Linked DNA regions of Homo sapiens. The protein of the gene in region 3 purifies or fractionates together with the protein of the main gene of each other region. This does not show direct contact. Each region holds a gene or a part of one and is shown on either strand. Other genes may lie near its edges.

Region 1 (3,500 bases), on a different chromosome or scaffold from region 3:
CCAGTCCAGAGTCAGATAGTTTTTCACTTTTTGGTTTTTACATTTTGCTGATCACCTTAACCTACGCTGCTTTTATTATATAAACTACAAACTTTATACTTTGCTTTGGTGTTCTGAATTCAGGCACTTATTTTTCTGATACAGAAATTGAAATGTAAACTTCAGCTGTGTTTCACAGCCTGAAGCTGATTTGGGTGTGAGGGGCTTGTTCTCCCTTCTAATCTAATGGGTTGACAGTCTATTAAAAGAGGGGCAAATACAGAGCACAGTGAGAAGTAGAAGATGACAGCAGAGTCACAGCAAGGGCCACGCAACCTTCTTGTGAAATCATTGCTTTTAATCTTTTAATCTATCCATCTTTAAAAAGACCCTAAAGGAGGGGTCTTTTTGTCCAGGAAGAACAATAAAAGGCTGTGGAAATACATCCAGAATATACAACTAAATCAAAAACCAAAAGCAGCACTGAATGGGCAAGAGAAAGATATTTGCGGAGGATAAAATGGGGAAAACACATCAAAATACTAAGGTTAAAATTTCTCTAATTAGGCAGATATAAAATGACACTGATGAGGGTATATGATAGCCATACTCCCAACAACCAAAGTTATAAAGCAATACGTGCTCCCCAAATAACAAGGAAAAGAATTCTTTCTATTCCTTTTGTTCCCCGCCCCATCCCTTGAATATTAAGCATGAACACTGTACATGCATAGATCACTTTTACAAGGCCAACACGATGAGATCAACACAAAGTCTCATTTTCCCAGAAATGAAGTCTGGTCGTGGGCTCCTTACCAGTGATAGTATTGTAGTGGTAGGAGGCATGTGTAAAAGCCTGGAGAAGGTAAGCCTTATTCTTGAATCTGTAGTTGATTTTCTTTTCAAAATTTTCAAACCCCGATATAAGGTGATTCAGTGTTTTATCTGCATCTGGATGATCAAACATACATCTTGGTGGAATCTTCAAACAACCATATTCCGAGTCTTTCAATACAGAAGAGCGTGAACTGGCCACAGAAGCAGCAGCACAGCTCACTGAAAGGTTCTTTTGTTGGCTGTTGAAATTCTCCCGAGTAGGGCACAGGGCCTTTTCCCGATCAGTCCTTTTAATTACCGGGAGCACCTTCAGCCCCAGTGAACAGAGGAAAAGCTGAGCAGCCCTCTCCCCACAGCTGGTTAAATAGCAGCCCAGCAGGGCTTCCACACAGTCCGCTATGCTTTTGTCAGCAATACACTGCTCAGTGTGCAAGTCGTAAGAAATGGACTGCTTTCCCGTGTCAACACCACAGTTTTCTTCTGATGGATTCCAGAACCCCACCACAAAGTCATCTTCTTCAACAGCTTTGCTAGGATCCAGATAGCACATTGCATCCCAAGAGCTGTAGTCAAAATCCTCAAAATCTGATGAAAATGGCATACTACCTAAGGAGGATTTTTTGGGCATTTTCCATTCATATGCAGAATCAGTGGTTGAAAAAGGAGAAAGAGAGATTTTCTTTACAAAAGCTCCTGACCCCATTAACATATTATCTATAAATCTGATATGTTCCTGATCATACTCCAGGAAATCATCTTCATAGTCAGCCTCTTCCTTCGGAGCCCTCCACATCAGGCTCTCCTCCTCCTCATCCTCCTCCTCGTAATCCTCATCCAGTTTGCCATTCGCCAGCATGCAGTCTTTTGTCTGAAACGAGGGGGAATGGGGAAGGAGGGGAAACATAGCTGCTGTTTTTAAAAGGGTTTGAAACTCAATAAAAGCAAGGGTTATGGATAATTTCAAATGACAACCACAAATACTAAAAGGCAACTTTAAAATCATGGCCATTTGTTTTCAATTAACATAAAATAAGTTATTTAATCATATAAACAAAGTAAAACATGTTCTTTGAATGTTCGTTTTCTAAGTTATAAAATGACCTTTATCCAGTATGAAGCTTTAAGTTAAGGACTTTGAACATGGATATAAAGTTAAAATTAATGTCCACAATGCAAAACTTCAACTAAGTCGTCTAACTCTGGTAGGACACACAATGAAAGCACTCATATGCTGATCACACAGATCTTCAATTTTGCTGACAAAATTTGAAAATGTGGTAATTTGATTTTCAAAAAGATTTTCAAACTAATAAAACGAAATTCCAGATGTAGAAAAGCATTACCTTTGCAATTAAGAATATAATATAAAAACAGATAAAATCATTTTTTAAAATGTACAATAGGATTTTATAATAAAGCTTTTTGTCCCTATTTCCACTTCAAAGTATACTTGCCACAAAAAAACTACACTGCTTTCCTTAAAAAATAAAAGTGATCACTGCACTAAGCTATGAATTTGAGAAGTTACGTTTTTTCCCTCCACTCTGAACTACGGTAATCAGGGGAACAGATTATAGCATAACTGACAAAAATGGAAGAAAATTTAGACTAACATGAAACACAACAATCCAATTTCTGTCAAAAGATCTTTGCTAATTCCAATTTCTTTGGCAAAAGCTTATTTGTGAGTGACAACCTTAATAATGGGCTAGATTTCAGTAATGATGTAACTTCTTTGCAATCCTAGAAAGATGCCAAATTTCTGTTATGCAAGTTTTTAAAAAACCAAAAAACTTGTGAAGGGGGAAGACGAAGGGTGTGCATCAATGTTGATTGTAACAACTTTCCAGTGTTCTGACAAAAAAAAGTTGCAACCTTCAAGCATTTTTTAAATACTACAAATATTTTAAACTAGACTCAAGATATAAACACTACATTTGTCTGAAAAGAAATAGCAGTAAGCCAAGCCATATCTCTAACTATTTATCTTTTCATTTTTTTAATTAAGAAAGAAACACCTTTTCAAGAATAAGGAACACCAAAAGCAACTGTAGCGGCAGACCTCAAGGAACATTTCCTGCTAACAATCTTAGACTTTCCAAGGCAACATGAAGATGTTTTTGATTGGTCCTTAAGAAAAAGAGGGCCAAACTGCGATTTTTAAAAAATCAGACAATATTTTTTTTTTATTGAAAAAAACCTTCTGTATCTTTAGAAAGGTGCCACCATAAGCCAAAAGTGGCAGAGCACAAAAATCACAAAGGGCTGACTTTTATCACAAACTGTGTGATCCTGGGCAAAGCCTTTTAGTGCCTCTGGGTTTCAGATGCTTCATCTACAAAAGAGTGGGGTTCTGTCTCATAAAATGTTTTTCAAGAGCACTTCAAGCCTTTTAAGAAAAAACAGCCACATGAAATCCTTTTCTATATCATTCAAGTCAACTTTGATACTCTCGTCTATTAAGAGGCGTTTTAGCATGCAAAGGTTTCCACTTAAGCCCATTTGCTGAAGGGCCAGAGCAAGGTAGGGAGAATGGCAATGCAACCAGCCAAAACCACAGTGTATCTTTTCAATATAATGCAAGGGCCTATATTTCAATAAAAGTAACTTACTAAATAAAAATCTGAACAGTATTTCTAATGAATTCCAATAACCAAAGTGCCATCAGAAACATTAAGAAAAAT
Region 2 (3,732 bases), on a different chromosome or scaffold from region 3:
TCCCTAAAAATACAAAAATTAGCTGGGTGCAGTGGTGCACGCTTGTAGTCCCAGCTACTCGGGAGGCTGAGGCAGGAGAATCACTTGAACCTGGGAAGCGGGGGTTGCAGTGAGCTGAGATTGTGCCACCTGCACTTCAGCCTGGGCGACAGTGAGACTCTGTCTCAAAAACAGAAGAAAACAAAACAAAACAAAACAAAACCCTGTAAATTACTTGAATGCCCACTGCTGAGGGAATTACTTATTGAACCAAAATATGTTCAAAATATGGCATGTCACACATAGAAGAGTGAGGTGTGCATATATAACTGGAAGATTACAAATGGCCTATTGAAAAAAAGAAAATAGTGTTAAAAGTATAAAGCTATTAAAAAAAAGTAAATGTCCCCATACCCAAGGAGAGAGACGTACTAACTAGAAGTCGAAGTTGGCATTCTCCTTTATTGTCCTCCCATGCACCCATAAAAACCAGGCACTTTATCTTGGTATGGTAGCATGCCTGTAATACCAGCTCCTCAGGAGACTGAGGTGAGAGGATCACTTGGTCCCTGGAGTTTGTGACCAGCGAACAGTGATCACACCACTGCTTGCCACGCTGGGCGAGAGTGAGATCTCAAAAAAAAAAGCAAAAACACAAAAGTCACCTGTACGTTGTGAGAGATACCACACCAAACTTTGGGTGGCCTCAGAGGTCAGATAATAGAGACTGAGGTGAGGGACTAGTAATTGTTCTTATTTAAAAAAAAAAAAAAGAAGAAAAGAGAAGTCCATAATCCCCCCAGCAAATTCAGAAAAACACACACACCGACCCCCCGCCGCCGCCCCACCCCGCCGATAAGAACAGGCTGCCAGTGTTGAAAAGGTAATACACCACAAAGGAAATGCAAGCAGATAAACATATGAAAAGATGGCAGTCACAAGCCAAGGCAATGCAAATCAACAAGCTTTTTTCCATCCCTAAAATTAAAGGAAGTTTATCCGCCCTCCCAACCCCCAGTCCCTTGAGGGAAGTGCTAAACATTTCTTGCCCTTTCCAACCGGTGCTCTCCTGTATTGTATACTTTTAAAGTAACCTCCTTAAAATACAAAGCAGAACTTGGGAGTACACTGGTGAAAATCTCCGGTCTCCCTAATCACTTTTTTTTTTTTGGCAGGGTCTTGCTCTGTCACCCAGGCTGGAATGCAGTGATGCAATCATAGCTTAGAGTAACCTTGAACTCCTGGGCTCAAATAATCTGACCGCCTCAGCCTCCCAAGTAGCTGGGACTGCAGGCAGAAGCCAGGACGTCTGGTCCCTGAGCCCTTTTGATGGCTACCATCCAACCCTGAGACAAAATTTGCTAAACTTGTACCAGCCTCTGCTTTCTTCTTGATCAGGGATTTTGAACCCAGAGTGCCTGGGTAGTGTCTGGCTAGAATTCAGAGTATCTGATATCTTGGATGTGAAAAAGGTCACATATATTTATTGTCATTAAACGCTAATCATAATTTAGCATTTAGCATTTGAGGCTGGGAGCAGTGGCTCATGTTTGTAATCTCAGCACTTTGGGAGGCTGAGGCAGGTGGATCACCTGAGGTCAGGAGTTTGAAACCAGCCTGGCCAACATGGTGAAACCCCGTCTCTACTAAAAATACAAAAATTAGCCGGGCATGGTGGCGTGTGCCTGTTGTCCCAGCAACTCAGGAGGCTGAGGCGGGAGAATCGCTTGAACCCAGGAGGCAGAGTTTGCAGTGAGCCAAGATTGTGCCACTGCACTCCAGCCTAATCCACAGAGTGAGACTCTTGTATCAAAAAAAAAAAAAAATCAGCATTTGATACAGTTAACAACAAATAATAAATCCCACCGTGCCCGGCTGTAATTTTCAGTTTTAAGCCAGGCATGGTGGTGCGTGCTTGTATTCCCAGCTACTCAGGAGGCTGAGACAGGAGTTTGAGTGTAGCCTCGGCAACATCGCAAGACCCTGTCTCTTTTAAAAAAAATAACTTAATTTCGAGTTTCTCATTGCACCTGTCATGTACTATAGAGTGACTCTTGGAAAACACATTACCCAAAAAAGGTAGTGTTAGATAATAGGGCACTGGCCAGATTAATTACTGAAAAGGTCAAAAAATCCCCAGGGTCACTATGAATGTGGCCAGGGTGGATATTTGCCCCTGCACTGGCTGTAATCAGGGTGTTCAAACACTGGAATGTGTTTTGATTTGCATTCTCCTGACTAATATAATCTTTTTGTGTTTACTGTACATATGGTTTTTGTATATGTGTTTACAAAATTGGATTGTACTCTATATTTTCTGCACCATTTTTTCCCTCTAGTATACCAAAGACATCCTTAACCAATGGGTATGATTCTAATATACTCTTATTATGTATGGTATAATTTTTATATGTACGTTGAACATATTGTATGCACCATATAGAGTATATATATCATAACATGGTGTATATATATATAACAATGTATATTATGGTTATGATTATTTGAGACGGAGTTTCACTCTTGTTGCCCAGGTTGGAGTGCAATGGCGTGGTCTCAGCTCACTGCAACCTCCGCCTCCCGCATTCAAGCAATTGTCTTGCCTCAACCTCCCGAGTAGCTGGTGGAGCCCGCCACCACGCCTGGCTAATTTTTGTATTTTTAGTAGAGACGGGGTTTCACCATGTTGGCCAGGCTGGTCTTGAACACCTGACCTCAGATGATCCGCCTGCCTTGGCCTTCCAAAGTGCAGGAATTACAGGCGTGAGCCACTGTGCCTGGCCATAATGTATATTATAATGTATATTTTATAAATTAATGTATTTATGTACTTATATATAGTTATATCTATTCTATATAATCCCATCGTGTGCATAAATCATCATTTGTTCCACCCTTCTCTTATTAAAGGACATTGTTTTCTAGTATTTTTTGGCCAGAAAAAACTCAGTACTAAAATTTCTATTCATGTATTCCTAAGTGTACAGGTGGTTTCATTCCTAATGGTAGATTCTCAAGGGGAGAGTATATGTATTATTTCTGACTTTAATAATAGGCTTTTCGTTTCCTGAAATGTTTAATAACTATTCCTACTTCTGATGGGTAAAAGTGGTCTCATTGTTTTTTTATTATGTACTCAACTCCTGGGATTGGGCCACCTTTCACATGTTTACTATTGATTTACATTGTCTTTCCTAAAAATATTTTATTTAGTTTTAGTTTATTTGTTTTATTTTATTTTTATTTTTACTTTTTTTTTGAGATGGAGTCTTGCTCGCTCTGTTGCCCAGGCTGTAGTGCAGTGGCGTTAACCCTAATTCAACCTCTGTCTACCGAGGTCAAGTGATTCTCCTGTCTCAGCCTCTGGAATAGCTGGGATTACAGGTGCCCGCCATCATGCCCAGCTAATTTTTGTATTTTTAGTAGAGACAGGGTTTCACCATGTTGGCCAGGCTGGTCTGGAACTGCTGACCTCAGGTGATCTGCCCTCCTCAACTTCCCAAAGTGCTGGGATTACAGGCATAAGCCACTGCAACCGGCCTCAAGTACATTTATTGTAGCGTTTATTGGACACAATAAAGGCACAATTGTTATCAGAAAAATTTGTCCTTATGTGCCTGTAGAAGTTTACCCTTGTTTTCAGCTTTCTGTGTCATCTTGGCAAGTCAAGTAGAAGTCTATTTCACCAGGGAGAGCTCAGTGGTTTTCCTTAAGGATTTTCAGTTTAAAAAAAAATATTAGAAGCATTATCAG
Region 3 (3,732 bases):
TACACTCACACCCCAAGGGCGGCAGAGCTTGCCATCGCTGTCACCCTCACTGCCGAAGCTCAGGCCCGGGAGCCCAATGCCCACGTAGCTGCGGCCTGACTTGACCACCACCTTGAAAGGGCTGTTCTCAATGTGCTGGTTGCACAGTGTCACAGATACCAGGTGCTCACCCTCCAGCTGGGGTCGGTAACTCACCACGTATGTCCCATTCTGCTGATCACTCACCTCTGCACCAAACAGGTTGCCATCAGGGCCCAGGACCACAGCCGACATCAGGTCGCCTCCTGAGAGGCGGGGCTCACCATCGTGGTCATAACCAATGACTGTGAAGGAGGCCACCTTACCCTGGAGGGCACGCTTGAGGCCATCGCCTGTGGCCTTGGTGAGTGGGGCAAAGGCCCCGCTGCTAACAAAGCCAAAAGACTTGATGGCAAGGTACAGTGCCTGATCGGGGGGTGTGAACATGACTCGGTCGTCTTCCTGGGGCTGCAGGAGGCTCCGCACGGTCTTCAGCTCCTGCACCTGGGCCAGCATCCGGTCTCGGGCCAGTAGGATGTCTAGCGCTCTACCCTCCTCCAGGACCTGCTGCACGGCACTGATGGTGCTCTCAAGCTTGTTGAGGTTTTGCCGCAGCTTCTCCACCTGCAGGTACAGAGACTTGGCTTTCACCTGGCGGATCTTTTCTACCTGGAGGGAAAAGCAAGAGTGGAGAAAGACACAGAGGCTTAGAGCCAAGCACAGAAAATACCACATAAGCCACAACTAATCACAAGGAAGCATCAGACAAACACATATTGTGGGATGGTCTACAAAAGACATCTGTCTTTCTTCAAAAGCAGCAAAATCAAAATGGACCAAAAAACCTGAAGAACTGTTCTGGGTTACAGAGGATAGTTACTAGAAACAGGACAACTATATGTAATTAGTGACTCTGGACTGGAGGGAGTGGCTAGCTATGAAAAGCACTGTTGGGACAATTGTTGAACCTTGATTATGGACTGAGGAGTAGATGCTAGTACTGTATCAAAATCAAATTTCCTGATTTCTGTAATTGTAATGTGATTAGGGGTAAAGGCATTGTGTTTCCAATATGCCAACTCACTCTCAGATCACAAACATATATACACATACATACATACATACATACACACACACACACATACACGCACGCCTCATGCCTCTAATCCCAGCACTTTGGGAGGATGAAGCAGGCAGATCACCTGAGGTCAGGAGTTTGAGACCAGTCTGGCCAACATGGCAAAACCCTGTCTCTACTAAAAATAACAAAAATTAACCAAGTGTGGTAACAGGTGCCTGTAATCCCAGCTATTTGGGAAGCTGATGTGGGGAGAATCGCTTGAACCCGAGAGGCGGAGGTTGCAGTGAGTAGAGATCACACCATTGCACTCCAACCTAGGGAACAGGGCGAGACTCCGTCTCAAAATAATAATAATAATAATAATAATAATAATAATAATAATAATAATTGGGACAAAACGTACATAATCAGTAAATCTGGAGAAGGAATATATGGAGTTACTATTACTGCAACTTTTCTGTAAGCTATAAATTAAAAAAAATAAAAGTTAAAAACAGCCATCTAGAGCTGGGCACAGTGCTGTGCACCTGTAATCCCAGCTACTCGGGAAGCTGAGGTGGAAGAATCACTTGAGCCTAGGAGGCTGAGTCTGTAGTGTGCCATGACTGTGTCTGTGAATAACCACTGCACTCCAGCCTGGGTAATACAGCAAGATCCCACCTTAAAAAAATAGCAAGATCCCACCACCAAAACCAAAAACAGCCATTTGACAAAGGAGTGTACTGAGCACCTACACTTTGCCAGGCATTGGAGGTACTGCAGTAACCCACAGAAAATATAAAATATGGTCCTTGCTCACACAGAGTTGTAGTTTAGAAAAGCAGTATTCAAAAGCAAACGAAGAAATAAGGATCATGTCAGATAGTGATAGGTGTTAAAAAGTAGAAAAAGGATGTGAAAGACAGTGTCTAGGGGCCCTGATACAGACAAAGAGCACTGAGGGACAGTGCCTTTCACAAGTTCAGACCTACAGGTTGAGACTAGGCAAAAGGCCATAGGGAGAGCTATCTCAGCAAAGGAAACAGCAAAGGTCCTGCTGTGGGCACAGGCTCAGCATTTCACAACCACAGCTTTCAGTAGGGGAGTGACATGACAGATTCATATTCTTAAAGAATTAGTTTGGGGCCCAGCACAGTGGCTCATGCTTTGGGAGGCCAAGATGGGTGGACCACCTGAGGTCAGGAGTTCAAAACCAGTCTGGCCAACATAGTGAGACCTTCTCTGTACTAAAAATACAAAACTAGCCGAGCGTGGTGGCAGGTGGCTGTAATCCCAGCTACTTGGGAGGCTGAGGCAGGAGAATCGCTTGAACCCAGGAGACGGAGGTTGCAGTGAGCCGAGATCGTGCCACTGCAGTCCAGCCTGGGCAATAAGAGCGAAACTCCGTCTCAAAACAACAACAACAACAACAACAAACCGCAAAAGGATTAGCTTGGGAAATGTGTATTAAAGGAGACCACCACCACAGGGCACCTTTTTTTTTTTTTTTTTTTTTTTTTTTTTTTTTTTTTTTGGTAGAGATGGGGTCTTAATGTTGCCACGGGTGGCCTCAAAATCCTGGACTCAAGCAATCTTCCCACCTCAGCCTCCCAAAGTGTTGGCATTACAGGCGTGAGTCACTGTGCTTGGGCCAGTTTCTCTTTACTTCTGTATTTTAAGAATGGTTTTAAAAACCCAACTGGGAACCTGAGAAGCCCTGTACCCCAAATTTTAACATAGCACGCTTTTGGCATGTCTGTATTATTTCCAAAAGAGCCCTTTAAATCTAAAATGCTATAATATATATGGACATGGATTCTAACCTGCCAAAATAATTCCTGCTTGAGGTTCTCAAACCATGCTATTTAGAAATATGGAATTTTGTTTTACCAATGAAACATTAGTTTCTCTATTCTTTAAAAGTTCTCTAATTCTAAGCAATTTCCCCCTGTGAAGCGAATGAACTTATCCAAACAGTTTTCACAGAGGACCATGACTTGAGTTGTTCTACAGATCTGAAAGCCATAGAAGGCTATTTCAGAATAAGCGTCCACTGTTGAAAGAGCTGGATTTCAACCTGACTTTCCCTTTAGGGTGGGAGGGGTGATTATATGATTTCGACTCATTCCTGCTTTTTCATCTGTTCAGTGAACCAGGATACATGTGTATGGAGAGGCCCACGTGGGGACAGATTAAAGAATATTTGCCCATTAGGCCAAACCTCCACCTTTGGTTCTTACCCATGAACTATATATATGCAGCTAACCCCATGAGGTAGCCAAGTCCACTGGAAATACATAAGGCCCAAGAATGAAGAGAGGCATCTGGATATTTACAACAGGGTTATCTTAATCCTTGCACTTATATATCTTAAAGTAACCAGAGATGCAGGAAAACAAAACTTGTAACAAAGAGATGCCCAGACAGAGACAGGCAAAGTAAGAGGGATTTGCTGGGAAGGAACAGAAAAAAAAAAAAAAAAAAAAAGTCAGTAATTAGTCAAAGAGAGAGGGACCCCACAGGATTTGGAGCAAGGTTCTATAGCAAAAGTATCCAAAATAAGGAAGCTTATTTTGGAATGCTCTGAGGATGAATTTTTGGGCAAGCAGAAACTGCTTACTACAATGAAGAAGGGATGGACTCTTCTTTCAAAT

Evidence for each region.
Region 1: the proteins of TRIM71 (region 3) and DICER1 purify together in Homo sapiens (affinity purification with western blotting, with the first as the bait; one study listed by BioGRID). This does not show direct contact.
Region 2: the proteins of TRIM71 (region 3) and L1TD1 purify together in Homo sapiens (co-immunoprecipitation; one large-scale study listed by IntAct). This does not show direct contact.

What each region holds. Positions count from the first base shown.
Region 1 is NC_000014.9:95,095,030-95,098,529, forward strand, and holds part of DICER1 (endoribonuclease Dicer), read right to left. Parts: intron 1,685-3,500; coding exon 796-1,684; coding exon of another isoform or gene 743-795; exon of another isoform or gene 317-742; intron 1-316. UniProt on the Homo sapiens protein: Double-stranded RNA (dsRNA) endoribonuclease playing a central role in short dsRNA-mediated post-transcriptional gene silencing.
Region 2 is NC_000001.11:62,197,709-62,201,440, forward strand, and holds part of L1TD1 (LINE-1 type transposase domain-containing protein 1), read left to right. Parts: intron 1-3,732.
Region 3 is NC_000003.12:32,887,315-32,891,046, reverse strand, and holds part of TRIM71 (E3 ubiquitin-protein ligase TRIM71), read right to left. Parts: intron 688-3,732; coding exon 1-687.